2 separate regions of the Homo sapiens genome follow, and region 1 is linked to region 2. The links come from fine-mapping of genetic effects on gene expression. A gene starts in region 2. The other region holds a variant in brackets. All regions are shown on one strand. Distances are between the middles of the regions. Region 1 overlaps ACTR3C (actin related protein 3C). Region 2 holds the start of LRRC61 (leucine rich repeat containing 61).

What was found. PIP is the estimated chance that this variant, and not a neighbour inherited with it, causes the effect.
Region 1: its variant is the best candidate, but not a certain one, in a credible set for the expression of LRRC61 in whole blood (TOPMed, PIP 0.64).

What each region holds. Positions count from the first base shown.
Region 1 is chr7:150,295,868-150,304,264 of GRCh38, forward strand. All of the region lies in intron 1 of ACTR3C (actin related protein 3C), which reads right to left. Among named protein-coding and RNA genes, the nearest start is that of LRRC61, 23 kb to the right of the region's middle. The variant T/C (reference allele first, on the strand shown) is at 5,070.
Region 2 is chr7:150,319,530-150,327,926 of GRCh38, forward strand. It overlaps LRRC61 (leucine rich repeat containing 61), which reads left to right and starts at 3,826. Exons shown (of 3, transcript NM_001142928.2): 1 at 3,826-4,031; 2 at 6,312-6,481. It overlaps ACTR3C (actin related protein 3C), which reads right to left and starts at 4,016. Exons shown (of 8, transcript NM_001164458.2): 1 at 3,940-4,016. RefSeq lists enhancers at 3,046-3,155, 3,206-3,265, 4,586-4,655 and a silencer at 3,876-4,195.

The DNA.
Region 1 (8,397 bases), 24 kb before region 2:
GCAGATCACAGCTTCCCCCAGACGCTGCCCAGGACCTCCCCAGCCTACCCACACGCCATTAGTCCAGAAGAACTCTGCTCATTCAGAGACGAGTAAGGGGCACAAAGAAGCCAGCCAACAGTGATATAAAAACACTCAAAGAGAAAGAAAAGGGACAGAGAAAAGAGGAAAAACAAATGGCAGACAAAAACACATATCCAGGGGCAGGCGTGGTAGCTCACGCCCATCATCCTAGCACTTTAGGAGGCTGAGGAGGGAGGATCACTTGAGTCCAGGAGTTTGAGACCAGCCTGGGCAATATTGGGAGACCCCACCTCTATGAAAAAATTTAAAAGTCAGCCAAGTGTGGTGGCACATGCCTGTGATCCCAGCTACTCGGGGGCTGAGGTAGGACCACTTGAGCCTCGGAGGTGAAGACTACATGAACCAAGATTGTGCCACTGCACTCCAACCTGGGTGACAGAGCAAGATCCTGTCTCCAAAAGACCGAAAAAAAAAAATATCTGGAAAAATATTGAAACAAAGCAGATAAAAATTCCCAAGAATTTCCAAAGACATTTCCAAGAATCCAAGTATCTATTTTAAAACAATAACCATCATCAAACAGGAGGAAATGACAGACAACAGAAACAGAAAAAGAATAAATAAACTTGATTTTTCTCATTCAACAATATACTATGAACATTTTTCCTTGTCAACAAATATGGGTCTATATCTCGTATTTAAAACTGAAAAAATAAAAAGTCTCTGGACCTTTGGGCAAAACGTATACATTACCCTTTATTATGAATGAACTGTGCTCCCCCTACCTCCAGTTCATACATTAAAGCCCTAACTCCCAGTGTACTATAATTGGAAATAGGGCCTTTCAAGAGGTCATCACGGTTACCTGAGGTCATAGGGGTGGGGCCCTAATTTGACAGGACTGGAGGAAGGTCTTCTAAGAAAAGGAAGAGACACCAGAAATCAGTCTCTCTCTCCTATTCTCTCCCCACTCTACGCTCACACAGGGGAAAGGCATGTGAGGACCCAGCAGGAAAGGTGACCACATACAAGCCAGGAAGAGGGCTGCGCCAGGAGCCAACCCCGACGGCACCTCGACCTTGGACTTCTAACCTCCAGAACTGTGAGAAAACAACGAACTGTCTGCTGTTTAAGCCACCCAACCTGTGGTATAAACAAAATTACAGCAGCCGAGTAGACTAATACACCCCTACGACAGGGAAAGTACAATCAGCCTCAGCCTTCAACACGGCTACATTTAACACTAGGACACATAGGGCCACACTTAAGAGTCTTCAAGGGAAGAAGGTACGACCCAAGAATTCTATATCTGGCCACAGTGTCAATCAAGTATGTTACAAAATCAAAATATCTAATATTTGAGATGATGGATATGCTAATTACCCTGATCTGATAACCACACATTATATGTATCAAAACTTCACTCTGTACCCCATAAATATGCACATTATGTGTCAATTTAAAAAAAAAACAATAAAATAAAATACTAAGGAGAAAAAATATATATCCTTAAACATACAAGAACTTGGAAAATTTCATTCCCATGAGCCAAAATGTATGGGTTCATGAACTATTAGAGGATAAACTTTATCCACTCAAGAAGAATGCAGAAAGTCCAGCAAAAGACTTACAGTGAGCAATGAAGCCATTTAAGACGTAGGAATAAAGACTTTTCTTTGGCCGGGCACGGTGGCTCATGCCTGTAATCCCAGCACTTTGGGAGGCCGAGGCGGGCGGATCACCTGAGGTCAGGAGTTTGAGACCAGCCTGGCCAACATGGGGAAACCCCATCTCTACTAAAAATACAAAAATTAGCCAGGCATGGTGGTGTGCACCTGTAGTCCCAGCTACTTGGGTGGTTGAGGCAGGAGAATTGCTTGAACGTGGGAGGCGGAGGTTGCAGTGAGCTGAGATCACACCACTGCATTCCAGCCTGGGCGATGGAGTGAGACTCCGTCTCAAAAAAAAAAAAAAAAAAAAAGACTTTTATTTTCTGGGAATTAAGAACAGAATGTAAATGTTATAAATTTTAATGGAAAAAAATGATATCAAGTTGAGCAGTGCACAAGGAAAGAAGGAGAGAGTGTAAAGACACTTGCCTCTTACAGTGAAATCAAAAGATATTATTTAAAACTGATAAAGTATCAGAGGCATTAGTAAACATAAAGTTATAAATGTTAACACTGGAATAAGTTTAGTAACATCATTAATCAAAAGCAGGTGGTGGAGAGAAGGAAGGGGAGGCAAGAACATGTGGCAATACCAACCTGGTCACTGATTACAGCAGGAAGGAGCTAGTTACCCCTAAACAAATACAGGGTAAACATATCAAATTATACTAAAATATGCAAACATGAGTCCTTTTAATCATTACCAAGAACACACACCCAATACAAAGCAAAGAGAAAAATAAGTCTTCAGTTAAAAAATACTAATACATAAATAAAGTACATTAAAAACATGAAGCATAACATTTTAAAAAAATAGTTAAATTAAGACCAAACATATCTGTCACACAGTAGCATGCCATACCAGTCCGATTAAGAGATGTGAAGTCAAACTGACTGGGATCAAATCCCAGCCTTCCACTTTACTAGGCTTGGTAAGCTATTTCCTCTCTCCCTGAGTCTCCTCATGGGTAAAGTGCAGGTAATTAGTACCCCACTCAGAGAGTTGGAAAGATTAAAGGCAGTCTAAATAATGTGCTTAGAGCAGTACTGGATACACAGATGTGTTCAATGGAAGTGAGTTGCTATTACTAAAATTATCAGCAAATACAAATGGGAAATTCAACTACTAAAAGTCTCTCAGTTAAAAACAAAAACAAAATCAAATTACATTCTGAGGTTAAGAGACCCAACTAAAACAAAGTAGCTTGGAAAGGTAAAAAGTCAACATTGTCTGTATCAGAAGATCAGAAACAACCTAAATACCCATCACTAAACACTTTGGAACAATTTAAAAAAATGAACTCTATGAAGAAACAATCTCTATGATGAATTGTTAAGTGAAAAAGAGAAAGGTGTCTCCATTCCGTATACATTCTTAAATATCCTTCTGCTTCAACAATTTGTAATGAAAACTTTTTTTTTTTTTTTTTTTTTTTTGAGACAGAGTCTCACTCTGTCAACCAGGCTCAAGTGCAGTAGCCCAATCTCGGATCTCTGGGAGACTCCACCTCCCAGAATTCAAGCAATTCTCCTGCCTCTGCCTCCAGAGTAGCTGGGATTACAGGCACATGCCGTCACGCTCAGTTAAGTTTTGTATTTTTAGTAGAGACAGGGTTTCACGATGTTGGCCAGGCTGGTCTCGAGCTCCTGACCTCAAGTGATCCACCACTTCGGCCTCCCAAAGGCTGGGATTACAAGGCGTGAGCCACCATGCCAGGCCAAAAACTATTTTTAAAAAACAAGGTGTGGTAGCCGGGTGTGTGCCTGTAGTCCCAGCTACTCAGGAGGCTGAGGCAGGAGGATCACTCCAGCCCAGGAGGTCGAGGCTGTCTGTAGTGGCTGTATGACTGCACCTGTGAATAGCCACTGCACTCCAGCTTGGACAACATAGAGACCCCCTCTCAAAAAAAAAAAAAAAAAAAAAAAAAAAAAACAAAAAACAGGCTGGGTGGTGTGGCTCACACCTGTAATCCCAGCACATTGGGAGGCAGGGGCAGGTGGATCACCTGAGGTCAGGAGTTCAAGACCAGCCTGGCCAACATGGGGAAACCCCATCTCTGCTAAAAATACAAAAATTAGCTGGGCGTGGTGGTGCACGCCTGTAATCCCAGCCAGTCGGGTGGCTGAGGCAGCAGAATTGCTTAAACCCGGGAGGCAGAGGTTGCAGTGAGCTGAGGTGGTGCCACTGTACTCCAGCCTGGGCAACAAGAGTTAACTCCATCTCAAAAACAAAAAACAAGGTCGGGGGAGAGGGGAAATAATGGGGACTCGTTCAATGAGTACGGAGTTTCAGTTTTGCAAGATGGAAAAGTTCTAGAATCTCTTACACAACAGTGTGAATATAGTTAACATTACAGAATTGTACAGTTAAAAATGGCTAATAGGGCACAAATAGTATTAGGGTTTTTTTTTACAATTTAAACCAAAAAAAAAAGTTTAATTCAAAAATCCAAGGTGTGCAACAGTATGCATATTGTGTTACCATTTGTGTAAAATAAAACTGTGTGCTAGCCGGGCGCAATGGCTCACACCTATAATGCCAACACTTTAGGAGGCTGAGGTGGGCGGATCATGAGCTCAGGAGTTTGAGACCAGCCTGACCAACATAGTGAAACCCCGTCTCTACTAAAAATACAAAAATTAGCCAGGCTTGGTGGCACATACCTGTAGTCCTAGCTACTCAGGAGGCTTGAGGCAGGGGAATTGCTTGAACCCGGGAGGCGGAGGTTGCGGTGAGCTGAGATCGTGCCACTGCACTCCAGCCTGGGCTACAGAGCAAGACTCCATCTCAAAAAAAACAACAACAAAAAAAGAAAGAACAAAAACAAGTGTGTGCTAACCCATATGCCTACACACAATCACCCCTGGAACATGAACAATCAGCTGGCTAAGAACGGGTAAGGGCGGCTTCCTCTAGGCAGGAAAGAGGCGAGGGGGGCACGCTCTCTAGAAATCTTCCAGCACCTTTTCAGTTCTGCACTGTGTGTGCATCACTTCTTCAAACAACAAGCAAGCAAATCTACCTACCAACTAGCCTGGCACTTTAAACTCTGGCACAGCAGCTGGTGAAAAGTTCAAACACACTGCCCCAAGTAAGTTTTAGTCACTGTAATTAGAATCCATCAATTCCTGGATGGGAGAGAGGAAGCCATCTCAAAATGTGGAAGGGAGAATAATGAAGTCATACTCAAACACAGGCTGCAAATAGGGAACCTAAAAAGCACTCCACAACATGGTATTTATTTCAATGCGCCTACTCGGGCTGAGGAGATTAAATCTGCTAATAGCAGTGAAGTGCCCAGAACACAGTTAGAAGTATAAATGTTAGCGATTACTACTTTAGATTTCCTTCATTTAAAGCACGTGAGTAAGAGA[T/C]GCAGATTCCAATAGTAGTGTGTACAATCTCTCTCTTAAGCTACCTCCTATCGATCTGAAAAGCGGGCCTAATAACATCACCTATCTCAGAGGGTTGTTGGTGGCATTAAAAATGAGTTAATACTTATAAACACTTAGAATGGGGCTGGGCACATAGAAGTACTCAATAAACAGCCATAATAGCCAATATTGTATCTCATTCCAGAAGAAATAACATATTAACTGAAGAAACCTATGTTTGTCATCTTGAATAGGAACCCAAGCATAATTATAAGTGAAATAAACAAAATATTTAAACTGAGTAGAGGTGGGGAAGTATCAGGAGAGAAAGGTTAAGAAGGTATGAAGATTTCTGAGTACAGCTGGGGAAGGTTTCTTGCCTCCCAGCAAAGAGATGCCTATTTAACCTGAAGCAAAAACAGACCTGTAGGAAGACATCACCAACAAGAATCAGATTAACCCTGGCTCCCTGCATTCTCTCTGGGTCTAAGTTCAGTGTGAAATGATGATCCAAATAAATCCCAGATGGATGAAGATTAAATACAAACATCAAAGGAAAATGGGTTTTACCAACATACAAATTTAAAGTTATGGATGTCCAAATGAAATAACCAAAAGAGAAAGGCAAAAAATTAACTGAGTAAAACTAACCTGCTGCAAATATAACAACAAAAGAAGCTTTCTATCTTAATTATATGAAAGCTTCCAGAGAATAAGCAGAATGTGGTATCTATGTACAATGGAATATTATTCAGCCTTAAAAAGAAAGGAATCCTGGCACATGCTTCAACATGGATGAAGCATGAAGACGCTAAGTGAAGTAAGCTGGTCACAAAAGGACAAATACTATATGATTCCATTTATATGAGGGCCCTAGAGTCATCAAATGTATAGAGACAGAAAGTAAAATGGGCATTCCAGGGGCAGGTAAAGGAGTAAAGAGAATTCGTGTTCAATGGGGACAGAGTTTTAGTTTGGGAAGATGAAAAGGCTTCTGGAGACAGACGGTGGCAATGGTTTGTGAATGTGCCTAATGCCACCAAGCTGTACATTCAAAAATGGTTCAAATGATAAATTCTGTTATGTGTATTTTAGAATAAAAAAAAGTTAAGTAAAAACAAAGTTCATAGAAATCACAGCAACAAGAAAAGCAATAAAACAACGATACGTAAAAGAGCACAGGGCATGAACAGACAGCTCGCAAAAGAGGAAATACAACTAACTAATGTGGAAAAACGTATAAGGTCAAAGTTATCAAAAATGCAAATGTAAAGCATATGGCAAATTTTAATCCATTAAATGATCAAAAATAATATTAATGCTGACAAGAGTACAAAGAAAGCAAGCCTCTTGCGCGGTGCTGACGGCAGTCTGAAATGGCACACTGTGCAGAGACTAATAAAATTACTAACACTGCTGAACTCCATAATCAAACACTGCTAGTTCTTTTTAAGTAAAAAAGACTCGAAATACAGGAAAAACTGTATGCACAAAGATTACATTATTTCTTATAAAACCAAGAAAATGACTAAAAATAGTGGAACTGCTAAGCAGGAAATACCTACTAGACAGATTATCATATAGCTGTTAAAATAAGGGTTATGAAAACTGTAAGGAAATGAGGAGTATAATATTGGGTGTAAAATCATTTTAAAAATGGGTAAAAAGATTAAATGAAAATATACTAAATGTCAACAGTACCTATGTTAATGTGATAAGACTATAAAAATCCCACAGATATCTTCCAAATTTTCTATACCACACTTACAATTCTACTGTAGTGAAGGGGGAAATGATCTCTATGTGAAGTGTTAAACTCCGAGTTATGGCTGTGGGGCAAGATCACACAAACTCCTCATCTAACTTCCCAATTTCCTAATGTATTTTATCCACAGACAGACTTACGGCAGCAAGATGGCAATGCCAAGCAGGAGACGCAGCACATCTTGCCACAGCTTCCTCCTGGCCAGAGGCTCCCTAACATGGGTGACACTCTCCACATAGGTAAAATCCAGCCAGAGTTGTGAAAGCAGCTGAATCTCTCCCTTGCTACTGTCTTCATGCCTTTGAGTGACACCACTATGACAGGCATTGAGTTGCTCTTACCAACACTGCAAGTTTGTGACTGACAGACCACTGATCTATGATGGGAAATGGCAACAGGCCCAGAAAAAAGCATTTCCCAGACTTCCTTGTGGACAGGGATGACTAAGTAAGTTCAGGCCAGTAAGACACAAAAGCTGGAGAATGGTTGCCAGGAAAGCTCCTTACAAAGCTGAGGTAGACTCAAGTCGTAGACTTGCCTCCTGCCCTTAACACCCTCCTCCTTCCTGGAACACAGAGGTGATAGCTGGAGGTGCAGTAATCAACTTGTGATCATGAGGCATCCTTAGAATGAAAGCCATATATTCAAGACACTAGAGTAGAGAGATTGTTAGCCACACCAGAGAGCTGCCATATCAGCACTGGACTCTACTGCAAATTTATTTAAGAAAAATAAAGCCTTAACTTTTTTAAACTACTGCTTTTATACTTCTATTACTTGCTGCCAAAAACATTTCACTGTCTTTGAAGAATTAAAATCTATGTATTTCCATTTAAAGGAACATTTACAATATAATGATGTTCTCCTGGTTCTTGAATCAAAATCGATGTTATTCAGGCCACATCCTTATGGGTTCTGAGGACCACAATCACAAACCCTCCGTCTTCCTCAACCTCCCATTTCATCTCTATCCACCACTATTGATGTTATAATTATTCCTTTAGGAGACAAATGTATTATTCTCAAACTATTATTTATAACAAGATCTAAATTGGAGATGTCCAGTTATTCTGGGGTTTTTTCTCTCTTTAAGACTAGTCAAGTGCAGCAGTGAGAAGAAGAGAAAGAGAATAATCTGGTTTTTTAAATATAGAAGCATATGATCAAAGCATCAATGAATGCAAGCTACACAAACATTTTTATTCATAACAATGGTAAAATTATCACCTGGTATTGATTTAAAAGTGAATAATGACTATCATAAAACCAACCCATATTTCTGGATAAAGATAGAAAATTGAACACATGTATCTAATATTACTCCACCTCCATGCCCCTCTAAAACTACAGTAAAGAAACATTTTTAAAAATACAAATCCTCAAGGAAGCGAGAATAGGAGAGGAGGCGACAATATACTGGAAGCTGGAAAGTACGTGCAGGAGGTGACTTAGCAAATCCAAGAAAGCTGACCTCTACACTGGCTAGGTCTACACTGGCTAGGTCTACACTGGTTAGTGAAGTGCACAAGGCAGGTCTAACCATTCTCAAGAATTCAGGAAGGA
Region 2 (8,397 bases):
GTCTAGCTCTGACATTCCACAAGGCTATGAAATGGTCCAGGAAGAGTTAGGGCAGGATGGCAAATTCAGGTGCCTTTGACTTTGGGAAGATGGAGGCAAAGCACTTTGTCCATCCAATTACTTTGTATTTATTTATTTATTGTTTGTTTGCCCAGACTCCAGTCTTGACAATTACTCTGCATTTTAAAACACTGTTGGGGCTAACCCTACCAACCTCTCCCCTGACCCGAGACAGAGTTAGCAGCTAATGTAGCTACTTCCCACTTTCTGTCACCCCTGCAAACAGGGCAAACAGGGATGCTGTATCTGGAAGCTCTAGGGGCAGGAGCCAGTCCTATTTATCCTTTGTAAAACACCTAGCAAAACGAGATGATTTTAGGTCAACCCTCCTGAAACTTGGCTTGGCTGCAGTGACAAGTTTTGTACCTACAGGAAGATCAGCATTTCCTTCCGTTCTTCCTCTGCCAATCCATCCCTGACTGGTCTTTTGCCCTCTTTTGAGTAAGAAACTCCTTGTTTTAGAGTGTTTCTGGATTAACGCTGGAAAGGGACCAACTCTGAGCCCATAGTGTGGATCCCATGTAACAGTACTCTTACCAGAAAAGGGGTTTCACCCCAGACCCCAAGGGCAGGTTCTTGGATCTTGCACAGGAAAGAATTTAGGGTGAGTCGCAAAGTACAGTAAAGTTTAAATGGTTTATTAGAAACTAATCTATTAGAGTAGGGTATCCTCAGGAAGCAAGAGGAAGAACGCCCTACCTCAAATGTAATGCTTGTTTGTGTAGGATATTAGAGCTAAGAATAGTGTATTTTATTACAAAGGCTTGTGATCGGCTTGTGACAGACTATCTGTATTGTTATTCTCTTGTGCAATTAATTTCAGAAAGAATTTATGAGTGGACTATTATCTTTAGAGCAAAATATAGTTTAAATTAAGAATGCCTTTTTCCAGGCCAGGCGCCATGGCTCAAGCCTGTAATCCCAGCACTTCGGGAGGCTGAGGTGGGTGGATCACTTGAAGTCAGGAGTTTGAGACCAGGCTGGCCAATATGGCAAAACCCCGTCTCTACTAAAAATATAAAAATTAGCCAGGTAAAGTGGCGCACATCTGTAATTCCAGCTACTTCGAAGGCTGAAGCAGGAGAATCACTTGAACCCGGGAGGCAGAGGTTGCAGTGAGCCGAGATGGTGGCATTGCACTCCAGCCTGGGCAACAGAGTGAGACTCCATCTCCAAAACAAAAACAAAAACAAGAATGCCTTTTTCCATTAACTTGTTTCCTCAACAATAAACATCTTGTGATCAAGAGTGCTGACTTCCTGGGAATGCAACCCAGCAGGTCTTGCCTTCCCCAGCCTTTATTTAGGATAGTGTCACTCTAGTTAGGACACCTCTGACAATACAACTCAAATCATTGGTAGCTCATGAAAAGAACTCACTCTTTGACTAAACTTGAGTCAGGCTCCTCTCAGTCCTCGTTTTGACTAGGCCCTGACCCTGGGCTGGTCCTTAACTCACTTAGTTCAGTTTTAGCAAGAATCCTGCTGAGTCAGTTCAGCAAAAATCCCCTACCCTTGGTATCTGATCACCTCGGCTTGTGTTCAGCAAAAATCTCCCTAACCTTTATGTGTCCTCTTAGTAATTTTCCATCTGCTGACTTCCACCCTGTTGCTTAACTATAAATCTCCACCTGTCCTTGTATTTGATGTTAAGCCTGATTTTTTTGCCCCTATTGCATAATCCCTATTGCAGCTGTTCTTGAATAAAGTCTCTCACCTTAACAATTGTTTGAATAATTTTTCTTTTAGTGCCATTTCCTACTGTAACATGCTGTGTGAGTCTCAATTTTCTGATCCATATAATGGAGAAACTAATACTTCCATCTCCGAGGCATGGAGATCAACTGAAATTAAAAATAACTTGCATATGGCTGGGCAGGGTGGCACACACCTGCAATCCCAGCACTTTGGGAGGCCAAGGCGGGCAGATCACTTGAAGTCAGGAGTTTGAGACCACCCTGGCCAATATGGCGAAACCCCGTCTCTACTAAAAATACAAAAATTAGCCAGGTGTGGTGGTTCACGCCTGTAGTCTTAGCTACTTGGGAGACTGAGGCAGGAGAATCGCTTGAACTCAGGAGGTGGAGGTTGCAGTGAGCTGAGATCACACCACTGCACTCCAGCCTGGGCAAGAGAGTGAGACTCCATCTCAAAAAAATAAAAATAAAAATAAAAAACTTGGATAAAGTGTAAAGATAAAAATCACTATTCTTGGGCAGGGGTCCCAGCTGTAGCCCAAGCTGGAGAACTAGACTGGCTTGGCATTAATTTGCTTGGGGCAGGAGAAGGGTCATCTGAAAGATATGGGAAAAGCTGAGGTTGCCCCTGGGAAGACTAGGGAAGCCTGCCCCCGGGCCAGCCCCTTGAATATGTCCAACTGAGGAGGTGGAAAGAAGTTCAAGGTAGCCAGGGAGACAAAAGTTGTTCACTTTGGTGCACATGTGGAACCAACATGGGACAAACAGGCATTTTGTGCTCGTCCAGGGAACATGACTTCTTCGGCTCCCACACAATTTGTAGCTGCAGGAGTGGCAGAGCACCAGAGTGGATGCAGGCCCAGATGTTCTCTGGGTTAGGTGTTAAGGACTTGTGGGAGTCATCAGGCAGCAGGCATTTGCCCCAGTGTCAGAGGTGTTTAAGCCAGAATTACTCCATCTTGAATAAGGGCTGGGTAAAATGAGGCTGCATTCATAGGAGGTTAGGCATTCTAAGTCACAGGATGAGACAGAAGGTTGGCACAAGATACAGGTCATACAGACCTTGCTGATAAAACAGGTTGCAGTAAAGAAGCTGGCTAAACGCCACCAAAACCAATATGGCAATGGGAGGGACCTCTGGTGGTCCTCACTGCTCATTATGCACTAATTATAATGCATTAGCATGCTAAAAGACACTCCCACCAGCAAGCACCATGACAGTTTACAGACGCCATGACACCATCATGAAATACTCTATATGGTCTAAAAAGGGGAGGAAGCCTCAGTTCCGGGAACTGCCCACCCCTTTCTCTGAAACTCATGAATAATTCAACCCTTGTTTAGCATATAATCAAGAAATAACCAAAAAATGGGTAACCAGTAGCCCTGGAGCTGCTCTGCCTATGGAGTAGCCATCCTTTTACTTCTTTGCTTTCTTAATAAACTTGTTTTCACTTTACTCTATGGGCTTGCCCTGAATTCTTTCTTGCATGAGATCCAAGAACCCTCTCTTAGGGCCTGGATCGGGACCCCTTTCTGATAACACCAGGAGACACCCTGGGTGGATTTCCTGAACCGACCGATAGATGAGCCTTCCACGCGGGAGACCTGGATCCTTATCGTCTTTGTGGCCCCTTCCATCTGCACGTGCGGACGAGGTCCGGGTCGCACTCGGGCGGTCAGCCTGGCACGCACAGCGCCGGCGTGCAGGGGGCCTTGGGTGCCACCGAGTCCGGGAGGAAATCTAGGCCGCCATCCGTCCGGAGACTGGCACCTGTGACCACCACCCAACATGTATTGAACAAGGGCTTGGAGGTCCTTTCTCTAAGGCCGCACCGATAAACGATTACCGACTGTTGACCTCACGGCCCCTTCGCTTCCGGCCGCACCGCCTCGCTGCCCACGCCTGCGCACTCAGGCACCGCAGGTAGGAGGAACGTACCAACTGCGAGGCGGGGGGTGCGCGCGAAGACCCCCGCAGGCTGCGCTTCCGGAAGTAACCCCTGGCGCATCCCGGAATCCAGAGCGCCCACTACGGCCTTTGGCCAGGCCCCCTGGGCGCGTTCCGGGAGCTCAGGCCTGCGGCGCTGGGAGAAGCACGCTGGCCAACAAGTTGGGTGGTGGGCACGCGGCCCAGGGGTCAGGGGCCGCCAGGCGGCGGGCGGCGGGGCTGCGGCTCTTACCTGCCGAGGAGGCGCCGGCTCTGCGGTGCGGAGTTGCGCCGGACTTCCCAGCTTGGCCAGTGGCTCCGCAGGCTGCCGGCTCCACCCCTCAGGTAAGCGGGGACTGGGCCGCCGAGGTTCAGGGAAGGGGGCGGCTGTCGGGGCCCGTGCCGGCCCCGGGGGGCCACCTGCTGGGCCAGCGGTGCCCTCGCGCCGAAACACACTGGGAGAGGCCAGAATCTTCCGGAACAGCCAGCCCTTACCCATCTCTCCCTCTGTGCCGAGAACTGCCCTGAAATACTGTGGTATTAATTAACTCGTTTAACACTAACAATCTCATGAGGCGGGTGCTGTTACTATTCCCGTAATGTAGACGAGGAAACCGAGGCGTGTGCTGGAGCAGGATCACGGCCGTGCTCAGAGACGGGCTCTGGATGCCATGCTCTGACTCCATTGTTAGCCCTAAGCTTCCAGAAAGTAGCAGAGTGCTGCCGTGTCGTTTGTAACAGATCTCACTTTGTGTCATTTTTTTTGCACAGTATGAAACCTAATGATGCATGATTATTATTTAAAACATCTTGCTTAGACTTTATAAGTAGTCAAATTTGCGTGTGGGACAAAACCCCAAAACATGCAATGGCTTGCTCTCCTCTTTTCCTTTCACACGTTCATCTCCTCCTATCCCTTTCTCTCACCACCTTTCAATCTTCTCACAGATGTTGTGGAGGAAGATGAGACTTGAGGGCCCAGCAGGTGCTTAAAATCCCCTGCCTGGTGGGGGTGGAGTAGACACTCTGTCCCCCTGCAGTGCTGGAGTTGAGAGCAGAGGGGCTGGAGAGGGACTGGGCGGAGTGAGAAAGGCCTGGCATAATCATGGAATGCCCAGGGTGGGGTTCTACTTCTCTTGCAGGCACAAGAGAAGTAGAAGAGTGGCCGCTTTCCTTCTGGGCACGCACTTGGGAAAAGGCTTGGTGAGAGCAGCGAGAAGAATAGGTCTAATTTCTTGAGCCAGTGTGCGGAGGTGCTTCCCAGCCCAGGCTAAGCCAGATCACTCAGCCAGCCGCTGGCTGCCTTTACAGATGTACGGCTCCCCGTGAGCAATCAACATGCCTGGCTCTCAGGCATAAGCTGCCTCACTTCCCTTCTGCACAGCACTCCAGGACTTGCCTGCTACCAGACCCATCCTACTTTCTCTGTCAGGAAAAATGAGAGTTCTTCCTGGTCTCTTGAGGCCAATCCCTTCCACCGCCTGTGCCCTGGATCCCTTTCTCCAGGAAGCTTCTCTTCCCTGTGTAGTTAGCCTCCCCGCTCTTCCCAGGTCACCTTCTCTCTGTTTAGGGACAGAGCCAAGCCTTTTCCCTCCCATCCCCACCTCCAGCATTCCCGGTTCCTGCTTCTCCCCCACTTCCTGCTGTACCGCCCACTGAAGGGACCTTTGACCCCGCTGACCACTGCTTTTGGAAAGTCTTTTCTTGGTTTCCCTAACTTCACTTTACTTTGGTTTTTCCTTGTCTCTCCCCTCTGCCTCTCAGTCACCTTTGAGATCTGCTCATCCTCTCACCTCCCTGTATTGTCAGCATTACCTGGGCAGCCCCCTCTGGTGTTTTCCTTCAGTTTCTCTAGAAACTTGCCTGAAGATTTGCCCCAAAATAGCCCACATGGACCTGTATGAGGAAAGAGGCTCACTGTGGAGGCGCTCTCCATCATTCCTCCTCTTCCACTTGAGGCTTAGGCATGGGCCACCTCCTGAACAGCTCTCCCCACAGTCTCCTCCATGCATTGTGCCATCACCCCGCCCTGCCGTCACCCCGGCCTGGCCCGCTTTCCCTTTTGCCTCCCAGGGATGTGCCTGCTTCCCATGTGGCCTGGCTAGGGCGCTTTCCTGACTGCTGCCCACATGATCGACTATGGGCAGGCGTGCAGCCCAAAAGGCCGTGCTTCAGCTTAGAAGCCCTTGGAATCTTGTCTTGTTGTGGTTGTAGGCCTCCAATGTGTTGTCAGCTGTGGTGATGTGTGTCACAAGTAACTTCTTTTTTTTGAGACAGGGTCTGGCTCTGTTGCTCAGGCTGGAATGCAGTGGTGCAATCACGGCTCACTGCAATCTCCACTTCCCTGCTCAAGCCATCTTCCTGCCTCAGACTGCCAAGAAGCTGGGACCACAGGCACAGGCCATCACAGCTGGCTGATTTTTTTGTATTTTTTTTGTAAAGACAAGGTTTCGCCATCTTGCCCAAGCTGGTCTCAACCCCCTGAGTTCAAAGCAGTCCACCCACCTTGGCTTCCCAAAGTGCTAGGATTACAGGCGTGAGCCACCACACCTGGCCACAAGTAACTTCTTAGTTATAAAGTACTGAAATTTATCAATGACTTTCTTTTTAAAATTTACGTTTTAGATTCATTTGGATTCAAGGTTGGCTCTCAACAGTGCCAGCTGCACTGTCATCCTAAAGTACTTCTGTGGAAGAGAACATGGTGGTGTCACTGTTGTACCAGTGATGACACAAAATCCCAGATCTACCTGACGGGCCTGCGAGGGTTGAAGATTGTGAAGCAATAGCCTAAGGTAAACAACACCTTGCAAGACGGGTCTAAGCTCTTCAGTGTAATAGACCCTGTTTCTCAGTAGGTCAGCCCGGGGGCCCCCCAGGGATCCCTCCCCGCCTCATAGCACCATACCCCACTTTCCCCCTGGTCTAATGATGAGCCCATTTCTAGGTTGTCGTCTCATCCTGAGCCCCAAGTGCCAGCCAGGCAGCTACTCTCCTCTGTTCATATCTTGAAGGCAGAGTGCTGGCTCATAGTAGACATTTGATGAATTTCTGTTAAATGATTGAGTGAATCAAGAGTATCTGCAGAGTATAGCATTTATGATGAGACAAAGCTAATTGGGAAACAGAACAAGATTGGTGTCCTGGGGTAACTGGGTAGGTCTTAAGATGAAGATTTTGGGGTGTGCTGGGTGCAGTGGCTCACACCTGTAATCCCAATACTTTGGGAGGCTGAGGCAGGGGGATTGCTTGATCCCAGGAGTTCAAGACCAGCTTGGGCAACATGGTGAAATCCCGTCTCTACAGAAAACACAAAAATTAGCTGGGTGTGGTGGTGCACATCTGAAGTCCCAGCTACTTGGGAGGCTGAGTTTGGGAGGATTACTTGAGCCCAGGAGGCAGAGGTTGCAACAAGGTAGATCATGCCACTGTACTCCAGCCTGGGTGACAGAGCAAGACCCAGTCTGAAAAAAAAAAAAAAAAAATACTTTGGAGGGTGACCCCGTTCTGCAGATGGCCTCTGGAGGCCTGGATGTTCACACTCTGGGGTTGCAGTTTCCTCAATCATGAAGTGAGAGTTAAGTCCCCTCCAGTGTGACATCCAAGAGCAGTTGTGGGCCCAGGACAGCAGCCTGTGTTTCCTTTGCAGCTTTACCTAGCCCCTACACAAGCGCCACCTTGCAGTAGGCCTTCAGTTCTTGGATTTATTGGTGGCTGAAAGTTCTTGCGAGATGGACTTGAAGTTGTTGCCACTTAACCCTTCTGAGGTTCTTCTGGCTGGGAGGAGCTCCTCTTTCTGGCCAGAGTCTTGCTTGAGCCTTCTTAGCCATCTCGTCACCTGTTATAGGCAGCCCTGCCATCTCTGGTGACCCTTTTTAAACATTACCCTGGTGAGTAATGTTTAGCATCACTCATTGTCAGATCTTTTTTATCTTTTTTTTTTTTTGAGTTTCAGTACCAGTAAGTCTTTATGTATTCATTATATCTTTCCAGGGAAAGGAGAAGGGAAGTGAAAAGGGTCAGCATGTGTGTTGCAAAGTGATTAGAAAATGGGAAAGGAAGTACCTGGTACAGAAAAATCAGCCATCCAATAGATGCACCCCAGAGATGGAGTAACCAAAGCCCAAGGGGCCCTGGTCTCCTGCAGTTCAGGACTGAGGGGCAGGGATCAGGGAAGGTACAAGCCTTTCTACCCTCCCTCCCTGCCCCTAAATTCAAGATTTCACATAAAGCTTTGGTTTCTAGCAGTAAACATGGGGTTACATTCATCTGTCTCCTTTTAAACAATCTTGTAGCCACTTTGACATAAGTTCTTGCACCGGGCCGGGCGTGGTGACTCACACCTGTAATCCCAGCACTTTAGGAGGTCAAGGAAGGAAGATTGCTTGAGCCCAGGAGTTGGAGTCCAGCCTGGGCAACATAGTGAGACCTTGTCTCTACAAAAAAATTAAAAGAATTAGTCAGGTGTGTTGGTGTACACCTGTAGTTCCAGCTACTTGGGAGCTGAGGTGGGAGGATCGCTTAAGCCTGGGAGGTTGAGGCTGCAGTGAGCCAAGATTGTACCACTCCACTACAGTCTGGGCGACAGAGCAAGACCTTGTCTCAAAAAAAAAAAAAAAAAGTTTCTTGCACTTGCGTAAAAGTTCCTAAGTGACTTAGATATATACTCATATTCCTTTGCCTGGTCTCCTGACCCCACTTCTACGTGGAA